Regions from separate parts of the Homo sapiens genome. Here regions 1 and 2 are each linked to region 3. The links come from fine-mapping of genetic effects on gene expression. A gene starts in region 3. Each other region holds a variant in brackets. All regions are shown on one strand. Distances are from middle to middle. Region 1 overlaps IL1R2 (interleukin 1 receptor type 2). Region 2 has its middle 60 kb from the start of IL1R1. Region 3 holds the start of IL1R1 (interleukin 1 receptor type 1).

Evidence for each region.
Region 1: its variant is fine-mapped to the expression of IL1R1 in whole blood (TOPMed, PIP above 0.99).
Region 2: its variant is fine-mapped to the expression of IL1R1 in whole blood (TOPMed, PIP 0.94).

Annotation. Positions count from the first base shown.
Region 1 is chr2:102,024,958-102,032,957 of GRCh38, forward strand. It overlaps IL1R2 (interleukin 1 receptor type 2), which reads left to right. Exons shown (of 9, transcript NM_004633.4): 8 at 1,154-1,296; 9 at 3,269-3,587. The coding sequence ends at 3,435. Among named protein-coding and RNA genes, the nearest start is that of IL1R2, 37 kb to the left of the region's middle. The variant T/C (reference allele first, on the strand shown) is at 3,042.
Region 2 is chr2:102,078,469-102,086,804 of GRCh38, forward strand. It overlaps a transcript of IL1R1 not described here. Among named protein-coding and RNA genes, the nearest start is that of IL1R1, 60 kb to the right of the region's middle. The variant G/A (reference allele first, on the strand shown) is at 4,172.
Region 3 is chr2:102,139,577-102,147,576 of GRCh38, forward strand. IL1R1 (interleukin 1 receptor type 1) reads left to right here and starts at 3,170. Exons shown (of 12, transcript NM_000877.4): 1 at 3,170-3,444. RefSeq lists enhancers at 4,033-4,327, 4,093-4,387.

The sequences.
Region 1 (8,000 bases), 110 kb before region 3:
TTTGGAGTTCATATCTTTCCATTTTCCACTCTGCAACCTGACTATCAAACATTTTCATAAACCCTTAAAAAGACCCTGAGACCTAGCCACAGTATCTATAGTACCTCTTCTGTTTCTCAGGGAGCTGTGGGCTGCCACAATCTCTAAGGGAGGTTAATAATTAAAAAAAAGAAAGAATTCAGTTCTCATAAGCAGTCATCTCTAGAAAATGTTTTCTTACTCTGAGACTCGAACAATCAGACCTTTTGTAAGTGGGAACTTGTTGCCTGTGAGGGAGACCATTCAACATTCCAAATTGTAACTCTTTTTAAAATTACAGTTTTGATACTTTGAATTAGCCTGAGCTTTTGCTTGCCAAATGGTTGTGTTTTTTGAAAGACTTATCACAAAAGATCTTTCTGGATGTAATTTAGTGGATAAAAACTATGTGTGGGTAGCACAATCATGTGCTTGCAAGTTCTCATTGCAAAAGACCTGGCCACAACTAAATGCCCATCTCAGCTTACTCATATGATCCACTTACTTAAAGGAACCTATATTCCCCCTACAAATAGAACAAAAATATTCCTAGTGGATCCACTCATCTGTGTTTTTATTCACACTAACAGTTAGTAGTGAGGTGTCTACAGATTCCTCTAACACTATAAATGGCAGCTATCCTGGCCACAGCCATTCCCCTGGGCTGTCTGCAGGTTTCCAGAGTGAGAGTCAGCAGTAGAGATGAGAAGAGACGGCACCACTGAGGGCTGGAGTCCTGGAAACTCCCTGCCCTTCAATATACAAGTGATTTAATGGTGAGGGACTCAAGTTTCCTCAAACTAGACGTTTCTGTTCCCATGACTGTTTTTTTTTGTTGTTGTTGTTCATTAAGAGACTTAAAAGATGAACTTCCCCATTATCTAACCCTGTAGTGTAACAACTGTTTGATGCCAGTGACCGCCAACTTCAGTGACACTAAGGCCTTCAGGGACAGGCTTAGAAACTGTCCCAAATGAATCACAAGTATGGTGGCAAGAGCTCCTAACTTTATGAAACTTGAAAACAATAAAAGCGCAATGGGTACTTCTAAAGGAGAGTGTTTAGATGTCTACATTGTGAAAGACAAGCTTGCATTCGATACAATCATAATTAAGTGAATGTTTTTTTAACTCAGGGAATATTCAGAAAATAATGAGAACTACATTGAAGTGCCATTGATTTTTGATCCTGTCACAAGAGAGGATTTGCACATGGATTTTAAATGTGTTGTCCATAATACCCTGAGTTTTCAGACACTACGCACCACAGTCAAGGAAGGTATGTATGTATTTTGGGGAGCACTATAGGAGAATATAACATGTTGAATGTTCCATGGATACTAGACAAATCTACTTGTTCTCCAAATGATTCCATAGAAATTCCCTTGCATTGTCTGCTAGTGGAGAGCTGAAAAGAAACCTCCCATTTTTAAAGAGTTTTGGTAGGGTGGAGGCTGGACTTTGGGAGATTATACTCAAATGAAAAATTTAAATAGCAAGCTGATTTTTGGAAAATGGATGAAATGGTTCTACAGTAAACTTCGAAATACTCTGTCTGCATGTGGCTCTGCCTTGGGTCACTAATCAGCTGTCTTCGCATGGCCTCTAGAAGAGGGTGGATTGTTCTTTATCCTGAAGATGAGAAACTTCATCCTCTAAGAGCTGGGGATTGGGAGCTACCCAGGGTTCAGGGCAGCTTTAGGGTCAAAGTCATTATATGACCGGAAATAGGTACAAGGCTACAGCCAAATCAACCCAGTGTTCATTTAAGGACATTTAAAAAGAAGAAGAGGAAAACCCACATTATCATTTTTGATTAAATTGATTTCATATCAATGTTTAATTGTTGAGCAGGAGGGAGAGCTGCCTTGAATGTAGTCTCTGTTGACAGCCTGTAGCTAATGGCAGGCAAGCCAAAGTGATTCCCAGCATCTCAGTGATGGCTCGTGGACAATCTTACAGCAATAACATAAATACAAATTGCTCCAGGTCTCCATGTTTTGCTGGGGAGGCAGCCACAAACACAGTGTAAACTGGAAAGCCAATGATGTGTTCCAGCCTCAGGACAGGGAATGGCACCCAACTTTCCTCCAACTGTGCGCTGTGCACCACCAGCCTCACACTCACCTGAGCCACTGGTCACAAACACAGATCTCAGGACTTACTCCAGATCCACCCTGTCAAATATTCCTAGGGAGAGGCTGCAGCCTGTGACACAAAAAGCTCCTTTCACAGTGAAGTTTGAGAATGAGGGCACACATGTGAAGGGTGGCGTTTCAGATCATTTCCAGATGAGCAGGCTGGGAGAGATGGTGGTTGTACACATTTACCCACAAAAATCAGAATGTTCCCTCTCGGGGTCAGATTAGTGAGCCCAAGGAACCTGTGGTTTGTCTGGCCCTGATGCTGGGAACCTTTAAAATTTTCCATAACATGAGCCTTGTCCCTGCATGTGGCTGGCCGTGACTGATCCAGGGAACACAGGCTGTAAGTCTTTCACCAGGACTGAGAGGTGTATTCAAACAGCTGCCCAGAATATTACAGCTGAACTTATTTCTAATCTTTGTGGGGTTTTAAAATGTGAGAATCCTCTGGAGCAACAGGCTGAGGTCATGTCGATTCCTGGATGACTAAACAGACTGTGATAGATAATAGCTTAAAAATGCAGGATTCTAGTCTCATCAACAATGTGTCTGATAACACTCTGTTCTCACATTTGCTTTTTAACTTTTTATTCAGAGTCTCTTCCTGTATTTCCATAACACAGAGACGCCAAGGAGCAGAACATAAAATAGCTGGACCCAAGCAATCGTGTTGGCCCCTGCAGCTCCATTATTCAAAATTTATTTTCCTTTGCTACTTCCTTTGATCCTCATGACACCCATGCTCATTAGAAAAGGGCAGATTGTTCCTGGCTCTGTCACAGTTGGCCAACTGTGACATAAACAGACAGCATCTTAAACGCACAGTGTCCCACTGTTGGAACAAAGTTAAACCCTCAGCACTTGCCCACTTACCCTACGA[T/C]GTTTCTAACAGATTTTGCCCTATCACGCTCGTTTCTCTAATGCCACAGACATCACTCTCAAATATCCTCCATGTTGGTGTGAGGGATGTGCTTTCTGAAAATCAATGCACATTTATCAAGAAAAACAAACTCCAATTTCTTTCTTATCTTGTACACCTGCATTGCCCTGTCCTCTTGTACAGTGAGAGACTGTTCAGCTCCTGATGTGACTCTGTTCTTCCCACAGCCTCCTCCACGTTCTCCTGGGGCATTGTGCTGGCCCCACTTTCACTGGCCTTCTTGGTTTTGGGGGGAATATGGATGCACAGACGGTGCAAACACAGAACTGGAAAAGCAGATGGTCTGACTGTGCTATGGCCTCATCATCAAGACTTTCAATCCTATCCCAAGTGAAATAAATGGAATGAAATAATTCAAACACAAACTCCGTACGTCTTCTCTTATGGAAGTGGCTGTGTCTTTTTGAGGGACTCTGTTCTTTGCCTCAGTTGTCTACCAAAGGTGCCACATTTATAGTGGCTTTGTAGTAAAGGACTAAAGTCTTACATTCTGTTTTTTTTTTCCCTAAAAATCAGTGACAACAGTAGATGTGCCTGTGAGTGGGTGTGAGTAGCTGTCTGCTACTTGTGACCTATTTAACAGAATGAGGTGCTCTTAGGCCTGCATGAGAGTGGAAAACATCTACATGAGTTTTGACATTCATTCAACAAAAACATATTATGAGTCTATTTTGACTAGACTCTATGGGAGATGTTGTACATACAGTGATGGTTAAGACATAGTTTGCCTTTCAGGAAGCTGGTTGTTCATTTTGAGACTGAAAAGAATAATTTAGTGCTAAAGCAGAAGAATCAGCAAGAATTGGTGAACTTTTTTGGAAAGGGCTATCCAAAAAATAGCAATTAAAAATACACACATTGGAATGTATTAGTGAACTGAGAATTAGACCCAACTTCATAACAACATGTCTGAAAATAGAAGGAAGGGCATTAAAAGAATTGTAGACAAACTGAATAAAATGTACCCAGAGCCTCTTTCATATCATATACCAAAAATAAAATCCAGATAGATAAATGAGTTCAATTAAAAAAAAAAAAACTCCAATGGCAGGAAAATCAGCACGGCTGGTGACTCCACCTTTCAGGTCTCTGTTCAAATGTGACCTTCCCAGAGGGAAGGTCCCCAGAGAGGACCTTCCTTCCTCTCTGTCCCCTCACCCTGCTTTGTACCATTGTAGCTTTTATCACCACCAGACCTTCCAGTATAGATTTGCTTGTTGATTTTCAATTTATGTTTCCCACCCAAATGGAAGACCCATGAGGTCAGAGAGATTATTTTGGTCCCAGCTGTATTTCCAGTACCTCAAAGCAGGCATTTAATGAATATTTGCAGAATAAATGAAGATGGGATGAACTCTCTCTTGTTCATTACCAAAAGACTTGCAAGAGTAAAGGTGAGTAGGCTTAATTACATTATAATTTCTGCACAACAAAATAACAAAAGCAAGGTTTAGACAAAATTGTGTCAGACAAGTTCAAGGAATGAGTAACTATCATGTGTAGAGTTATTCAAAGTCATAGAAAAGGCATGTGTCTTAGTCTTTTTGGGCTGCTACAACAAAATACCATAACTAGGGTGGCTTGTAAACAACAGAAATTTATTTCTCACAGTTTTGGAGGTTGAGAAGTCCAAGATCAAGGTGCGAGCAGATTTGGTGTCTGGTGAGGGCCCACTTCCTGGCTAATAGACGGCAGCCCTCCTGACTTAATCACCTCCCAAGGGCCACAACTCCTAATACCATTGTATTGGAGGTTAGGGTTTCAACATATGAATTTTGGGAGGACACAAACATTCAGTTTATAGTAGCATCATCACCCTACAGATGAAAAAATGTGAGTAGGGGATTGCAGAAGAGACACACATAAAGGAACTCATGGAAAAATGACACTTTCAGTAAGAACCAGGGGATGTAAATTAGAGCAAATTTGAGATACCAGTGCACTCACACACTATCAAGTGTTTAAAAGTTTTTATGAAACACTCTCACACTTTAATTCAATTTATAATTTGGTGCTGGGAAGAAGAAAGGCAACATGAGCCAAGTCAGTTGGGTGCTGGACCAGCTTGCATCTTCTTGCAAGAGCCCAGGATGTGCCTCTCTTCTTGGCTCTGTTCAGTGATGTCATGTTGGTAGCTTAAAATCTGTGGCCATTGTGGAGTCTTTACACCACAGAAATTGGCAGTTGCCACAAATCAGCACTCTCTTCCCCAGTACATAACAACAAGGTTTGAGAGATGCCCAGTGATACTACTCCTGGGAATTTAGCTTAGGAAATAATTTAATAAAATAAAATCATTAGAGATATAAAATAATTTAATAAAACTTATTACCCCAATGATGAAAAATTATGCAGCAATTATCAATTATAATGATCAATACTATAATGACCAAATTATCAAAATTGTAAGACTTAAATGTTTACAGTGTTAAGGAAATATTATACATTGTTTTGTACAATTTTTATGGTTACAATATTGACATTTGTTTGCATCTAGACAAGGAGAAAACTTAAAAACTTGGACTTTGAAGGCAGACTTTGTGAGTTCAAGTTCAAGCACTGCCACATGGTGCCTCTGTGATCTTGGGCAAATCCTTTAATCTCAAAGTACATCAATTTTCTCATCTGAAAAATGGGGATAATCACTTAGTCCAAATTAACTTAGCTATTTAGCTATATTTTATATTTCCATTTTTCCTATTTTTCTATTTCAACTATAGTAACTGTTTAATAATCAAAAACATAGGAGGAATAGACAGAAATAAAAATTGTTGTACTTGGACTACGTGTTGACAAACCACAGCCTGTGGGCCAAATGCAGCCTGCCCTCTGTTTCTGTGGATTAAGAGTATTAGGAAACAGCCTTGCCTGTTTGTTTGCAGACTGTCTTTGGCCACTTTTGCTCTTTGAAGATAGAGTTGAGTAGTTGAGATGGCAAAACCTAGAATATTTACTATTTGGTCGTTTACAGGAAAAGTTTGCCAATGCCTGGTTTAGGTGAAGGCGGTTTTGAGCAGTTAACTTTTGACCCTCGCTTTTCTATTTTCCTGTTATCATCTCCTCTTTCCTTCTTCTGTTTTCTAAGCATTCAGGGAGGGAGAAGTACGGAGGGGCCGGCAGAGGCCTTTGAACACCTTATTAGATTTTAACCGGAAAGGAGAGGAGAGTGAGGTTTGAGAAGGAGGATTCGGTGAGGACGTTGCACAGGGTTCTTTGACTGCTTCTGCCTTTTCTTTATCTTCAGGCTTGGGGCCACGCGCTTGCATCTCTCTTCCTTCCTCGAACTTCTCCAGTGCTCTCTGGAGTCCCCCGCTTTAGATTCTGGCTGTTTCAGCAATGACCCAGAAAAGGAGCTGACTGCAGCCGGAGGAGAACCACCATCGGCTTTCAGACTCTGCCTTGACCTCACAGGTTACGCATTTCCTCCCCTCCACTATTTCAGAAGTGTGGGGTCACACAGGTAGAAAAGATGCGAGACAATCGGGGAATTTTGAGTGCTGGATTTATGCTAATATTAAGGAATAAGTGTGATATTTGCATTGCTGCATTCAAAAAAGGTTATTATCTAAGAGGCAAACTAAATATTTATTTATTTATTTATTTATTTATTTTTTTGAGATGGAGTCTTGCTCTGTCGTCCAGGCTGGAGTGCAGTGGCGCGATCTCAGCTCGCCGCAAGCTCCGCCTCCCGGGTTCACGCCATTCTCCTGCCTCAGCCTCCCGAGTAGCTGGGACTACAGGCGCCCGCCACCGTGCCTGGCTAATTTTTTTTGTATTTTTAGTAGAGACGGGGTTTCACCGTGGTCTCGATCTCCTGACCTCGTGATCCACCAGCCTCGGCCTCCCAAAGTGCTGGGATTACAGGCGTGAGCCACCGAGCCTGGCTGAGGCAGACTAAATTTTTTATGGGTGATGTGTGAGATTTGCTTCGAAGTTATCCAGTGGTGGATGGGAGAATACATGAAATAAGATTGGCCAAATGTTGATAACTGTTGGCCTTGGTGATGACTGCACCCTGCTTCCTTATATCATTCTTTCTACTTTTGTATATGTTTGAAAACTTCCATAATAAAGAGTAAAATACAATCCAGCAAAAACTCAATACCCGCTAGACAAGAGAATGTGTAGCTCTTACAAGTAATAAAATGCACTACAGTAAAAAACAACATGGAACAATATGGATGAATCTTAGATATATATTATTGAATGAGTCCCAGAAACATTTCTTAGAATGATGTCCTTTTACATAAAGTGAAAACAACTAAAGTTAATATGCTCTCTCTCGAATATGTGAAAGCATCTTCATATATATTCACACACACGGTTAAAATGTAGTTTTTGTCATATATATGCTCTTAAATATAGATGTGTGTGTGTGTGTGTGTGTTTGTTTGGATAGTGATTACATCAGGGTTGGGATGGATTAGGAAAACATAAACTTCATTAAGTTCTAGATCTCATGTTAGGTAGTAGACTGTGATTGTTTACTTTATTATTAAACAAACAGATTAAAAAAAAACACAAGCTATTCAGGGACCAATATAGAATCTGTGTCTTGAACCAAGGATTATGACTAACCTAATTCTGTGTCCCTAAGTCCAATTTGAACACACAAACAGATGGACAAGTGAAACAATGTGGTTTCTTTTCTTAAAGTGGCCTATCTCCTCTATTTTTTGTTGATTCTGTTGTTTTAACTTTCTGAAGGTGAATTTTTTCACCCCCAACCCTACAAAGGCTGGGGAGAGGGGGTGATAAATAGTTTTTGGAAACCTCACACTTCCATGCACTGCCCACAGGAAAAACCCACGTCTTATGTAATAAATGCCACTTCTGCAAGAACTAAGGATGAGAGCAGACATCAACAACAGAAGCCAAGAATAATTTATGAGCTAAAAA
Region 2 (8,336 bases), 61 kb before region 3:
TAGAAAGACACAACTGAAACTGGATCAAGAAGAAATAGATAATCTGAATGGGACTATAATAAATAAAGACACTGAATTAGCAGTCAAAAAACTTCACACACACACACACACACACACACACACACACACACAAGAAAAAAAAAAGGAAAAAAGCCCATGCCCAGATGGTTTCACTGGTGAATTCCACCAAACATTTAAAAGAGATGAGCAGCAATCCTTCAGAAAACTATTTCAAAAAGTTGAAAAGGAAGGGACACTTGCGAATTCATCCTAGAAAGTCAGTATTACCCCGGTACCAACACCAGATGAAAACATCATATGAAAAGTAAAATAAAGACCAATATCCCTGATGAATACAGACATACAAATCCTCAGCAAAACACTGGACATGAAATAGAGCAGCTATAAAAGAATCATATGCCATGACCAAGTGGGATTTATCCTAAGAATGCAACATTATTTCAACATCCAAAAATCAATCAATGTAATGCAACATATTAATAGAATAAAGGATGGAATTGCATAATCATCTCAATAGATGCAGACAAAATGTCTGATAAAATCTGACACCCTTTCAAGATTAAAAACAACAACAACAACAACAACAAACCAACAAAAATCAGCAGAGTAGTAATAGAAGAGGACTTTCTTAACCTGATAATGGGCATCCAAAAAACCCCACAGCTAACATTATACTTAATGATCAAAGACCAGTAGCTTTCCCTCTGTGATCAGGAAGAAGAGAAGGATGTTTAATCCTACCACTTCTATTCAACATTGTACTAAGAATGCTAGCTAGGGAAATTTGGCAAGAAGAAATAAAATTCATATTGGAAAAAACCAGCTCTATTCTCAAATGACCTGGTCTTGTATATAGAACATTCTAAGGAATCCACTAAAAACTATTAGACTACTAAACAAGCTCAGTAAGTTTGCAAGATACAAAATCAATATATGAAAATTAATTGTATTTTTATATATTAGCAATGAAAAATTTGAAAATGAAATTAAGAAAACAATTCTACTTACAATAGCTTCAAAAAGAATAAAATAGCATAAACTTAAGAAAAGAAGTATAAGACTTGTACACTAAAAGTATAAAATATTATTGAAAGTAATTTTAAAATCGCTCAATTAATTGAAAGACATCCCATGTTCATGAATCAGAAGACTTAACTTTTTTAAAGATGGCAGTACTCCCCAAATGTATCCCAGATTTATCACAATCCTTATGAATATCCAAATTGCCTTTATTGCAGAAATTGAGAAACTGCTCATAAAATACACAAGGAAATGCAAAGGATGGAGAATATCCAAAACAATCTTGAAAAATAACAAAGTCAATGACTTACACTCCCATTTTAAAACTTACTACAAAGCAACGGTATCCAAGACAGTAGGATGTTCTCAGAGTATAAATATAAAAATCAATAAAAATAGAATTAAGAATTCAGAAATATGCCCTTACGTTTATGGTCAATTGGTTCCAAGAAAGATGCCAGCAATTCAGTGGGGGAAAGAATAATCTTCTTAATAAAAGGTGATGGGACATCTGGATATCCACATGTGAAGAAAAAATTTGCATCTCTATCTCATACTGTACACAAAAATTTACTCAAAAAGCAATCATAGAACTAAACGTATGATCTAGAACTGCAAAACTCTTAGAAGGAAATATAAATATAAATCTTTGTGACCTTGAATTGGGCAATGCTTCCTTAAGTATACAGCGCCAGAGCACAAGCAACAACAAAATAGATAATTGCACTTCACCAAAATTAAATCCTTTCATGTTTTAAAGTACTCTCTTAAGAAAGTGAAAATATAGCTCATGGAGTGGGATAAAATATTGGCAAATTATCTGATAATGAACTTGTATCCATAATATGCACAAATCTCTGATAAATTAACAATAAAAAGACAACCCAATTAAAAAGTGAGCAAAAGATTTGAATGGACATTTCGCTGAAGAAGATAGATAAAGGGTTGCTAAGCACATTAAAAGATGCTCGACATTACTGGTCATTAGCAAACGCAAAGCAAAACATACTAAGATGCCATCCACTAGAATGACGGGATGAAAGAGGCCAGAAATAATAAATGTTAGTGAGGACATAGAGAAACTGGTACACTCATTTATTACTGGAAGGAATGTAAGATGGTACAGCTACTTTTAAAATAGTTTGTGGTTCTTTGAAATGTTCAACATAGAGTTGCCATATGACTCAGCAATTCCACTCCTAGGTATCTATGTGACATAATTAACAACACAAAAATCTGTACACCAATTTTCATAGCAACATTATTCAAAATAGCCAAAACATAGAAACAACCCAAATGTCCATTAATGGATGAATGGATTAACAATATGCAGTATATCCAAACAACGGAATATTATTCAGCCATGGAAAGGAGTGAAGTACTACCTATACACAGTACAACATAGAGGAACCTTGAAAGCATTATGCTAAGTGAGAGGAGCTAGTTACAGAAGCCCACACATTGTATAATTCCATTTATATGGAATGCTTAGAATAAGCAAATTTATAGAATCAGAAAGTAGTATATAGATTGCCAGGGGCTAGAAGAAAGGGGAACGAAGAGTGATTGCTAATGAGTATGAAGTTTCTTTTGGGGGTGATGAAAATGCTCTGAAATTGGATAGTGGTGATGGGTGCGCAACTCTATGAATATACTGAAACCCTTTGAATTGTACACTTTTAAAAGGGTAATTTTATGCTGTGTGAATGACATCTCAATAAAATTCTCATTAAAATAAGAATATATGAGAGTATCTATTTCTAACTGTAGAGATTTTTGCAAATCCTGCAGAAATATGCTGAATTAGTTACAACCAGCTAAGGGAGCCTGGGATGGAAGAGTTTGAACCACACCCAATGGCCTGCATCTGGTGCTCTCCCAAGATCCATGGAAATAATCTTCCAACCTGCAATGTACCAGGGCATCTACCAGCCTGGCTCCACGGTGGTTTCAGGCATTGCTCTACAAATGATCAAGTTTTCATTCTAGAGTACGAATGAGGATTGAGTTAGACTAACTGTACAAGGGACAGGAAATAACAGCTCCTTCCCTGTCCTGGGGTCAGTGGTTTGAAAAGCACCCCATCTATCAGTGAATATCCAGCTTCCTGACAAAGAAAAGGGCTAGGGGATTTGCCCCCACCCTGTTTAGAAGGCGAAGGCGAATTAGGCCTGAATGGCGACTTGATTCTCATCTGAATATCAGAGAAACACATGTGTTGCAGGCTACACTGGAAGTCCTAATGGCTTCAGTTTGATAGTGGATTTGGGCTTAATGGTTGAGCAACTCCAGTGGCTTCCTCTCTTGATTACGTTGGTGGCTGTGAGATGAACTACCCAGTCATCAGTCATCATTATCAATGGCCCATTTGCCTGGGATGCTTTGGAAGAATGAAAGAGAGTAAAGGCAGTTCTACTTTTAAAGAAGTTAAAACATGGGCTACAGAGCATTTTCGTTTATTGTTTATCAAATGTTAGCCTGCCTCAGAATACCTGGAGGGCACAGATTCCTAGGTCCCACCTCTGGAGCTGCTAAGTCAGTTGATGTGGGCAAATAACCTAACACCTTGGCATTCACTTCCAGGTTTTCTTCATTTCCTCGTCCTCCCTTTCCTTCTTCAAATGTTCTCCTGTTCCTTCTTGGCTTTATAACTATCTTTGTCTCTGCTTCCCTTCCTATACATTGCCTTAATTAATCCTTTAATTTAGATTAAATTAAAGGATAAATATAAATTAAAGGATAAATTAAAGGATAAATCTAATCCTTTAATTTAAATATTATTTCTGGAGATATATTTGCCATGTGATCCATTTTGTTTGTTAGAAAAACACAAGAGAAAAAAATTGCTGATAATCTTCTCAAAAAGGATTATCTTGTTTGTTCTAAAGCCAAGGATGTATAGTGCATCTTGGAATGTTTTGGATTGAGGTGGGACATTTGCTTTCTTTTTGTTTTCAAACATCATTAATTTACTTGGTATAAGAACTTCAGAATCAGCATAAAGTAAAAGTAGTTTCTTAGGAATAGTGTCATGATAATTCCATGCACTTAACATGAGGTAGGTGATAACGGAAGTAGTGGTTTTCTTGATTTTTCTTATTCAAACTGCTTCATCAAACAAAACAAAACA[G/A]AACAAACGCCCTGGAGACAGAGAGTCTTATTGTGCCATAGTATTTCTCTTTCTCTCTCTTTTTTAAATATTTCAAGCGAGCATGCCATCAGCAGGGCTGTCTTCACTGAGCTATTTGTTGCTGGGAGATGTTGTAGACTGTTGCTCGGTCAGTGCAAATGAGAGCTGCTAGCCTCGCTGTAACCTCGCTGGCTGGGTACTCTCAGAGATTGTTAAGAGTTTTAAAATTTTTCTAATCACTAAGCATGTTAGGAAACCAGAGCTTTGTGTATGAAGAACAACTTCCTCTCAGGGACTGTACTCAAGGCTGAGGTTTGGACCTCAGCCAATTTTATGAACGAACAGGAACAATGTCAAAAACATCAGGATTCCTGGTCATGAGGACCAGAGGGGGCCACTCCAATGGGATGGTAAGCTTCTGTAGGGCTGGCACGTGACTTTGCACCCCTGATGCTCCGCATGAAGGGATTTTCTGCACCCAGCAAGTGCTGACTGATTTCCTGAGGACACTTAGTCCTACTCTAAACTCTAAGAAGGTCTAGGGCCACATCAGGAAAGTGAGATTCATGCACTGACTCATTTCCACACTTCAGAGGACACTTTCTTTGAGTGGGTGTTTGGAAAAAAATGCAAGGTAGATGTAATTCTCCACACATCAGCTGATGACTCGTACTGACAGTGTCTAGAATAGAACTTTTTTTTTCCTTTTGGGTAGGTACCTTCTCCCCAGATGGATGGTGTGTTCCCCAGAGTGCCGAGGTATTTCTGGGTGAAGTAATATTGTTCCCTTGTGTGTAATCCTACTAGTTCTCTTTCATGAAGTAGCTGGAATGTCTGAGTGGTCAAGGGTAATCCCTGAGCTGGCCTTGACACAAACAGATACGGGCTCTTCCATCCTTGGGTCCCTCTGTTCTGACACCTGATGACACACTTAGGAGTTTTCCTCTAGTACCTAAAACTATAGTTAGTAGGTACTTAGAAACAATTACAAGCTGTGCTAATGCTTTTTAAAAGTGGAAATATCGGCCAGGTGTGGTGGCTCACACCTGCAATCCCAGCACTTTGGGACGCCGAGGCAGGTGGATCACGAGGTCAGGAGTTCAAGACCAGCCTGACCAATATGGTGAAACCCCATCTCTACTAAAAATACAAAAATTAGCCAGGCATGGTGATGGGCGCCTGTAATCCCAGCTACTCAGGAGGCTGAGGCAGGAGAATTGCTTGAACCTGGGAGGCAGAGGTTGCAGTGAGCCGAGATCACGCCACTGCACTCCAGCTTAAGCGACTGAGCAAGACTCCGCCTCAAAAAAAAAAAAGTGGAAATAGCAATATGTGCTTTAGCTAAATATTAATTTTGTTTTTGCCCTGCCTTTTAGCTCTGTGGTCTTGACCAAGGCCTCATAGCGACTCTGAATCTCTTGCGACTCTGAATCTCTTGCGACTCTGAATCTCTCGCAATCTCAATTTTCTTGTTTGCAAAACTAAGATGTAGCAGTTATAATGTGAGGCGCAAATGAGAAAGGCCATACAAAAACCCTAACCAAAAAATCCAGTAAAATGAAGCTCAGTTAAACTAAAGACAGCCCGTTGACATCTTTTGTGCGTTTCCTCCTTGGTTCCCAGGAATGCTGGAAAAAGAGGCATTTGTTCTAAACATGGAAATGCAGCAAAATAATGATTCTTTTATGGCCTGGTGGTCTGGTTTGACACAATCAATAACTAAAATAAATACACACAGCGTACAGCCCTGTAATAATAGAGGTTGCTCGGAATCAACTCACAGTAGTAAAAATCCTGGTTGAGAAATTATCCCCAAAGATGATATGATTTTATCGCCCCGTACAAAGTTAACCAGTCTTATACATAATATGGATCTTTTCAAACTTTTAAATGAAGTATAATGCATACACAGAACAGTGAACTCATCATGGGCAACTAAATTAATTTTCACAAAATCATATTTTGTGAATATGCTATGATTTATTAATACATTGTACTGCTGATGAACATTTGGATAGTTTCTGGTTTTTGGCTAATAAATATAGGGCTGCTATGAGTATTTTTGTATACATACTTTGGTTGACATTTCTACTATTTTCTGTTGGTCTTGTACCTGTGAGTGAAATTACTGAGTCATAAGATATGTATTTGTTCCTCAGCAGTAGTTACTGCTGCCACACAGCATGGTTCTGCTAATATGTACTTCCAGTGGGAATGTTTGACAGTTCCAGCTGATGGAAATCTTTACCAGCGTTTAATATTTTCTCTTATTCATTTTCACCATTCTGGTAAGAGTGTCCCGCAATTTCATTCTGGCTTTAATTGAATTTCCCCAATGGCTAATGCAGTTGAACACTTTTTCAAATTATTTTTTGGCCATTTAAATATTTTCTTTTGTTAAGGATCAGTTCAACCTTTTGTTTGTATTTCTATTGGGTTACCTAGATTTTTCTTACTGATTTGCAGTGGTTTTTAATGCATTCTGGGTAAGAACACTTTGTCAGCAGTATCTATTCCAAATACCTGCTTCAACTCTGTGGATTGCATTTCATTTCCCTAATGGTGTCTTTGGATGAACACACCTTGATTTATCAATAGTCTTTCTTTGATTATTAGAATATTTTGTGTCTGTTTTACAACTATTTGCCTACTCCAAAGTCATAAAAATTTTCTCCTGTGCATTTCTTTAAAGGCTTTATTGTTTTACTTTTCACATTCAGATCTGCAGACCAACAATTAAGATTTGGATATGGTATTAAGCAGTGGCTCAAGGTTCAATTTTCATTTCTCCATTTGACTATCCAAATGATTCAGTGCCATTTAGAGAAATGAATACTCTTTTCTCTCTTCAGTTCAGTGGCGTGTTGGGCATAAATCAGGTAACTATGTAGGTGTGTATGAGTCTTTTTCTGGACTATTCATTCTATTGCATTGGCCAGTTTGTATAAATTTTCACTGAAATGCTGTCCTAATTACTATAGCCCTGATATAAAATGCTATCTAGTAGGGTAAGTCTTTACTATTCCTCAAGATTGCCATAGCTATTATTTGCATTTAATATTTTCATATGAATTTTAAAATCACCTGTCAATTCCCACAAAATACCAACAGCGATTTTGATTGGGATTGCAATTAATTTATAAATCAATTTGGGAATAACTGACAACTTTACAACATCAAATCTTTCAATTATTGAACATGCTACATTGTATAGCTCCATTTATAAGATATTCTTTAACTTCTCTTGGCAATTTTTAAAATTTTTCAGTGTAGGGAACTTACATGTTTTTCATATTTTCAGAAGAATCACTGTCTGTGTCAGCAATAGCTTTATTTTTAGGTGGTTACTATTTTTAGTGAGCTTGTACATGAAGTAATTTTTGAAACATTTCATTTATGACTTGTTCGTTGATAGAAATAAAAGTGATTTTAATATTGACCTTTTATCCACTAGCACTGCTAAACTTGTTTACTGATTTTAATAATCTGTACATGCTTGTGAATATTCCAGAAAAACAATCATGCCATCTGCAAATAATGGCATTAATTTTTAAAGGGTGGTTTCACTGGGTAAGATTTCTTAATTGACAGTTTAGTTTTCTTTAGGTGCTTAGAGTATGTTGTTCCAATGCCTTTTGGCCTCCGTACTTTCTCATAAGAATTCAGTTGTTAATCACTTCATTGTATTTCCTGTATGTGATGGGTCGTTTTTCTCTAGCTGCTCTCAGGATATTTTCTTTATCATTGGCTTTTAACAATTTGCTTATGATGTGCTTTCTTTGTGATTATTCTTTGTTGGGTTGTATTGAGCTTGTTGAATATGTAAATTAATATTTTTCACTGTTTGAAAAGTTGTCAGTCATTATTACTTTAAATATTTTCTACGCCTTTCTCCCCCTCTTTTTTTTTGGGGATTTTAATTACATATATTTTGGCAGAGCCAGGGGCTCTGTTTATTTTTCAACAGACTTTTTTTCTTTGTGATCTTTCAACTGTGTAAAAAACTCACTAGTTCTTTATCTGTCACTAATCTGCTCTGGGAATCACCTCGTAAATTAAAAAATTCTCGTTACTGTTCTTTCCAGCTGTTTTTAAACGTTATCTAGCCTCCCTTTCTCTCTCAAAGATTTTATATTTGTTCACTCATCAATATCTTATTTAAAAA
Region 3 (8,000 bases):
AGTTGTTTGGATCATGGGGGTAGATCCCTCATGAATGGCTTGGGCCATCCCCTTGGTGATAAGCGAGCTTTTGCTCTGAGTTCACATGAGATCTGGTCATTTAAAAGTGAGTGGCACCTCCCGCACCTCTCTCTCGCTTCCTCCTGCTCTGGCCACGTGACGTACCTGCACCTCCTTCACCTTCTGTCATGATTGTTAGTTTCCTGAGGCCTCCTCAGAAGCCCAACAGATGGCAGTGCCATGCTTCCTGTATAGCCTACAGAACCATGAGAGAATTAAATCTCTTTTCTTATAAATTTCCCAGTTTCAGGTATTTTTTTATAGCAATGTAGGAATGGCCTAACACACCAGGATTTCTCTTATTAGGTGGTGCTGAAGAGTGGAAGCTCTGAGTCACTCCTCAGAAACCTTTCAGGGTCTAGTAAAGAGCAGCTCCCTCCCTCTGCTTCTCCCCTTCCCACCTGCTGGTCAACTCTGTTCCTTGGAGTGGGAACAAAAACAAATAGCTTTACATTACCATACATTCTTCTGTACTCCGTGGTTTATGATGTAAACCTTATGGTCTAAGTTGTCCAATACTTTGGCTTTGGAGGTTCAAGGAAAAAAAACATAAAATACTTCTTCTTTCAAGCCTAGCCTTAATGTTTATAATGGACAGTCTTTCAAAATGTCCTGCCACATGGGCCATAGGAGATGCTTTATTTTTCAGGCATTGGATTATGTTGTGTTGGTCAATATGATTTTGTTTCATGTGCATTATCAGAAACTCTTCCCAAAGAGGGTCCTGGGATCTGATCAGCTAGACAAGTGGAGGAGAAACTGAAAACCCTCAGGGGACAGGGTCTCAGTTAAGTCTCCTGAATGATAAGCATTTCAGAGGTGGGAGGGAGACACCCCGGAAGGTGTCCAGAGGCTAACAATGCTATTTCTGTTTCTTGTAAGTTTTTGTCCAAGATGTGGGCCATTGGATTGCATCACTAGCATACAATGTCAGTGTAAGCAGTAGGCTTTACACTAAAGCATGTTGATGTGCTCAGAGCATTTTTGTGGTGCTGAGACCAGAGCAGATAGGGATACAGGGATGACAGTCTCCACCTTACGGAAGCCTCCTACCCAGGGGATGGAGTGAGACAGGCAGGCACACCAGTTATCCAAGGAAAGGAAATAAAGGGAAGGAGAAAGTCAGTGAAAGTGGTCAGGATGGCTGAGTGAGGGAGAAGGTGACTTGAAGGTCCCAGATAGAACAGTGGTAATAAGGTGAGAAAGAGGAGGTCTTCCAATTCCATTTCTGTGTTGGGCGGGTGTTTGAGAGTCCCACCTGGGTCTAGAGGCCTGCATGTCTAGCAGGACACTGGGTAGGAGTGGCTGAACGGGGACAACACTTAAAAAAGACAAAAATTACGGATTTTATTTCTACATGGTTGCACAAATCAATTTCACTTTCTACTTGTAAACTGCTTAAAAACCTTCATTATGAAAATGGAAGGACGAATTTATGTTCACCATCATAGTGCTTCTGGGCTGGTTCCACAGCATGGAGCCAGGCCCACCTGCTGTAGCTTTCAGAACTGCCATTTGGACACGTGGTTGAAGCAGCCTTCAGTTGGAGGATTCACAGTAATGGCATCACTGTGGGAGCTTAGAGGAACAACTGCTTGCAACCCCAGCTGCACTGGAATTACCTGGGAGCTTTAAAAACACTGCCTTTTGGGCCTCAGCCCCAGAGACTCTGACGTGACTGATCTGAACACAGGAGTGTCATGTCCTCCGGTGATTCTGAGTGGAGTCAAGGCTGTGAGACCTTCTGCTGTATAAAGGAATATTGAGAGCTGGGATTGTTAAGGAATTCTCTTAATGCTACGTCACTGGCCTCTGATGTAAGCCTGCTTTCTCGAGGAAAAGGAACCATAAAAGCTTCTGGAAACAGATTGTTTAAGAATGAGAAATTGTCATCATGCCAGGTTGCAAGACAGCTTTTAGGGCAGATGAGCTTCTGCTGCTCATTCCTTCATCTTTTCCTCCAGCCTGGATTTGTCCGGGGGCAGCTGAGGCTCAGGTTACCTCAATTCTTGAGTTTCTGAAGAGGCATATCCAGGGGTGGGTTACGAGAACAAGAGCCTGCCCAGTCTGAAAGGGATGCAGGAAGGGGCGGTGTGTACTAGAAGGAAGGAAGCTATCATCATTTATTAAAACTCTTCTTGGAGGATGGCCCATGAAGACCTCCAAACAAGCTGGAGGGGCCAGTCACTTGCTGAAGACTAGCGAAGTGGAGGGGGAAAGCCCGAGGGAGCTGCAGACTCGACCACTGCGCCCTCCCCTCCTCTCCCTGCAAGGAGCCCAAGGTGTGATCCTGCCAGGCGTTCGTTCGCTGCATGACCTTGGCCATCCTTCCATTCCCCTGGGTGTGAATTCTCATTGGCAAAGTGAGCTGGTGGGCATAAGTGGGTTTTAAGTTTAAAAATTTAAAAACCCTGTCTGCCCCCAAGTGTGGTATCAAGATTTTATAGTATGACACTTAAATTGCTTTTTTCATCCGGGCGCGTAACAGCAACAATGAAACCAGCAGATAACGCGTGAGTAGTATCAGCTCTGGGCCTGGCACTATTTTATATGTATTAGCTCATTTTTTTTAAAAAACTGTTTTCAACCACTCCATGAGATGAGTGCTCTTATGATCCCTTTTTCACAGAAGAGGAAACGGAGGTACAAAGAAATTAGTGCACAAAGCCAGTCGGAGAGAGCCCCTGGCCAGGCACCAAGCTCCAGAGGTCGCTCTGGCGAGCGTTTGCTTCGGGATCTGATGCCCTGGAGTCGCCAACTCAATTCGCGGGTCGCAGCCAGGCTCCATGGGGGTAGTAGAGCCAGGTCGTAGTGGCTAGGTGAGTTGTCTCAACTAACTCTAGTGGAGCCGCCGCAGCCCTGGAGGAGCCGGGCCGCGACTCGAGAGCGCCCGGCAGCTCTCCAATGCTTTGGAACCGGCGGGACCCCTGCGGGCTACCCGGGGCAGGGCGGTGTCCGCAGGGGTCTGTCCAGCCGCGCCTGCTCCTCCGGGTGGAGAGTTGGGACACCCGGCCAGCTCGCTCGCAGCCCGCGGACTGGCCCAGCCGAGCCGTCTCCGCCCGTTCCCCGCCCCCGCAGCGGCGGGGCTAGAGCCAGAGCCGCGCCCGGCAGTTCCCGGCCGCGAGGGCGGGCGCAGCTTGTGGCCGGCGGCCGGAGCCGACTCGGAGCGCGCGGCGCCGGCCGGGAGGAGCCGGAGAGCGGCCGGGCCGGGCGGTGGGGGCGCCGGCCTGCCCCGCGCGCCCCAGGGAGCGGCAGGAATGTGACAATCGCGCGCCCGCGCACCGAAGCACTCCTCGCTCGGCTCCTAGGGCTCTCGCCCCTCTGAGCTGAGCCGGGTTCCGCCCGGGGCTGGGATCCCATCACCCTCCACGGCCGTCCGTCCAGGTACGGGGAAGCTGGAGCATCCGGGGACTAGGTAGGGGTGAGACGGACCACAGCCTTGACACCTTCGAGTCCCCCGCTCTGCAGGACGCCGTGAGCGTCCTCCCTAAGTTGCACTTGGTTGTCAGAGTGTGTTGTGTAAGAAGGGGATGGCGGTGAGGTCTGCGTGTGTGTGTTTCTTGTGTGGAGCAAGAGTTAACGTTGTTCAGGTCGTTTGAAGGAACTTGCCAGTTGTTCTGGAGGGGGGTTCTAGGTAGGTGTGTGACTTCCCGTGTGAATGGCTTTCAGGTTTTCTATCCGGCTACGTTCTACAGGTTCAGGAGCGTCCCTCTTAGAGGTTAGGCTCAGGACCGTCAGTCTCCTTAACAAGGTAAGGGCTGAGGCCTTAACCACACTGGGGAGGGTAACTTGTTGCCCCTCCAGATAAAGGATGGTGCTAGGGAATGTAGCTACAAGCAAGTAGGCGCTGAGAAGACACTCATTATTTACAACAGTCATGCCCAGCACTTTACAGTTTATAAGCCCTTGACAGCAACTGGTCTTTTACCCTCCCTACAGTCTTGTGAGGAGGGTGCTGTCATCACCCCTGTTTTACAGCGGGGGAAGCAGAAGTTTAGGTGACCAACTTGTTGGAGGATGATGTCCTGAAGGAGGGTAAGACCTCTGCATGCAGCCCCCCTCTGTCTTCCCTCCCACTCGTCCTGCCTGCCAGGGCTTTCTCCTCTGCACTGCCGGGAGGAAGGAAGGCCGCTGGGAAGGCACGCAGATGCTGGCTCCTGCTGGGCTGTCTCTCCACTGCCTTATCTTTGGGGCAGGGTAGCTTCTCAGATGGCCACATTCCTGTGATTTAGCTTTACATTCTAGGAACTGAGGCAAGGGACACCATGAACTTGGGCTCTTGAGGTCATGGAGCAAGGGTCCATTCGTCACGGGAATGTGATGGATGTCTCAGTCGCTGCGGTTTGGTGCCAGGCTTCTGGACATTGAATGTATGAAACAGAACTCCATGACTATTGATGAGCTGAGGAAAGCCAGAGGTGGCATGGGGACGTTCACTGTCCTTTTTGCCATCCAGTTTACCAAGCGGCTATTGGCATTGTTTTCTTTCTCAATCCCTTCTAATTTATTGTGTGATATCTCATTTGATATTTCATTTAATATTCTGTATTCATATCCGATGTTAACGTTTATGCTAGACAGAAAGGTAGAGCCTTTGAGAATGGGGTTTGCTGGGGCAGGGGTGTGGAACTCTGATTTATTTTCAGTCTCTGGCTAGCTGCCAAGCTGCTGTGTGTGAAGCGTCTCCTGCACCCGTCCACTCTCATGTGGCCTCCATGCTGTTCAGGAAAGGATATTTGATCTGAATTCTCACATGACCTTGGCAGGCCCAGAGCAGCACCCCCATTTCTAATAGGCCCTGCTTGTATGTCATAATGTGACATCAAGTTTTTTTTTTATGGTTCTGAAACCTGTGACATCTTTTGAGTCAACCTCTCACCATTGTTGAAACACTGCTTAATAGTAGATTCACTAATTTATTAAAGATTTATTGACTATCTACTATGTGCCAGGCACTGTGGTGAGTGGTGGGGAGACAGCGGTGAATACGACAAGTGAAAACCTCTGTCCCCTTATGGACATGAGTCTTCTTGGTAAGACATAGGATGTCAGCAGTCTCTCTTCAAAAGGGGGGTCTTTGAAATCCGCCCCTTTGTACAAGGGTGTGGATGCACTGGCTACCTAGAGGACACCACTCAGCAGCCCCAATGGAGAGGACGAGGAGATGATGGGCACAGATGTAGCTCTGTGGTTCCCTAGAGAATCGCAGGGCTGCTATTCTCCAAGTTTGTGGTGTCCCTTGCCTCAGTTCCTAGGATGTGGAGCTCTAGGAGGTGGAGCTACACTCTGTGGCTTGGCCATGCACAGGGACCAGGGCAGATGGAAACCCTGTGGCTGGGATGCATCAGTGCGAGCTGAGTGTCCACCTGCAAGCTGGGACATTATGGAGAAGACATCTCAGTAATAAGAGAGGCAAAGCTGGACAATTGCGGTGAAACTACCATAGCATAGTGGGTGGAGAAGTACAGAGATCCTTATATTCTTATGCTACATAATGGATATACTAGGTTCTTGCCATTTTAAAAGAAGTTGTCAGGGGCACCTGTGGCTCACCTGCCATGGCACAGCTCCAGGATGCTACCCATCTGTTGCCGTGAATGGGTGCTTGGTTTGCATTTTCTTCTTCTTGAGGTTGTGAGGTGGGCTGGTGGCACAAGACAAGGATCTGCACTGTCAGCAGCCTTTTTCTCCTCTGGTTGTCTGCTGTGGGTCCAGGAAATGCTGCTGGAGCCTCCCGGCCATGCCTAGTGCAGGGAGCATGTGGGAAGCCCTGGCCCCGAGTTATCTCACCAGGTACTGAAAGGGGCTGGAGCTCTTTAAGGTCCCAGTCGCCTGCATGTTGGATTCTGTGCTGTCTCCTCTTCATGCACATCCAGGAGCTCACACATGGCGGCACGATGGAGACACCTATCACTTCCCAAGAGGACTCATGCCCACGAGCGGACAGGGGGTCTCATAAATTAAAAGTAGGGTAAAAGGAAAACAAGAGCGGAGATGAAGTGGAGTCTGAAATGAGGCTTGACATGTGCAGTGTAAACCCTGATGACCTAGATGCTGCTAAAGTTACTCAAGTGGGGCCGTGAATGTGGAGGGAAGCCTGAGTCTTAGCTCTGCCTGCACCTTAGCACTGCCTGAAGCACTCAGGGAAATGCCAGGACTGGATGCAGAGCAAACAAACTAGCATCTCTGGAGGCGTGCTGGGCACGGGTATTTTCAAAGCCCCCCAGGTAGCCAAGGTTGACAACATAAATACATAAATACTCTTTCCTGTAGGCAGTGGGAAAGAGGAAACCCTGCAGGGCACAGCCAGCAGTGTCTTCAAGATGAAAGCAAAGTGCTCAGGAAAAAAAGCATTCTTGGCACAGAGAGAAGTGGGAAGTTTCTTTTAAAGATCCCTGAAAAAGAGGTGAGAATAGTGAGTTTTCGGTGGTCTCTTGAAATGACCCTCCCTGTAAGCACAGTTCGGTAATCATGGTTCAGCGAGCTGTGAACAGGAAGAGTCTAGCCATGCTGGTCTCTGCACATTTGGCGTCCCAAATGTGAGAACTCATAGATCCCTGAAAATACAGCCAATGACTAATGACTAAGAGTTAAATGAAAAGTTAGATGGTGTCACTTTCCATCAGTGGGTCTCACCTCATTAAAACCCAACACCCCCCTTAATGCAAATATTTTAAAACACCCCTTTTATAATTTTGAAACGATATAATAAAACTTATCTACAACATAAGTTTAAAAAATCAATGTAATACTTAGATGTTAAGGAGAAATAAAAGCAATTTGTATTAAAATTATGCATTTCAGTGTGCAGATGCTTGAGCTAAGCTGAACTACAACCTAGTGAGGTGAGCCATTGCTTTCTATAGTCTGCAGGACAGCTGGCATGGGGTGGGAACAGGTGAGTCTCAGTGGCCATCCAAATGCCACTGAAGGATGAATGACTCTCGGTTAAGGTCTTGATGGTAGCCAAAGGCCATTCTTCTCTCAATTTTCACAGTGATTGCATTCCTGAAAAATTTAGTGTGTATAAACTTGTGCCAACAATATATGTATTTCATATGAATGTAGAAGGGAGTTGGGGGGCTAGGCTTCAAACATTGTAAATATGTTTCCGTCAGTATGAACGTCTGTGAGACCTCTGGAGGTCATGCAGGACAAGTCTTTTCTGAGCAGAACTGCCTGTGTTGTTCCGGATGTCAAGCATCGATGGCCTCCAATGCTAAATGCATCCTGATCACCCAGGGTCCCCTTCCCCACAGGTTCCGAAATGCTCCCTCAAGGGCCATACCCACTCCACTGAGAACCACTGCTTTCCCTGCATTGCTGGGTAGTGAGTGATTAAAGTGCCATTGCAGGCGTGGGTGCCGAGATAGCAGGGCACCGGACATGTCTAAGCCAGCCATCAGGAATGCACTTCCGTTGCTTGCTGTAGGATGGTAGAGGTCGAGTTAGAAATCAGAAAGGTTGGTGCTTTGTGTGTGGGGGTGAAGGGCCACAAGGGAACTTTGAGGGGTGGCAGAAATGGTCTACATCCTGAAGTATTCCTGGTGCACACAGTTGTTGCAATTTATGGAACTGTCCACGTAAGTTTTGTGTGTTTCACCATGAGCAATATGGTGAAAAATATTTACCCCAATAAAAAAATTATAGAAGTGAAAACAATGTAACGATTCTTGTAGAGAAGGCTTAGTCCTCTGAAACTGTCTGTGGATCCCAATCTGAGAAACAGCTGTTCTTGCCTGACTGGGAGGCAGTGCTCCAGGGAGAAAGGTCTCTGGTTCTCAGTCAACTTTTTGACAAGTCCAGTGCAATAGTGGCCTTGGCATCGTAGACCCTGGTGGCTGGAGAGGAGATGTGTTGGAGTTATAGGGGAGGCTGGGAAGCACAAGGCAGGGCATTTAGAAAGGGGACAAAGGACAAGAGATGAGGCCCATCCCTGT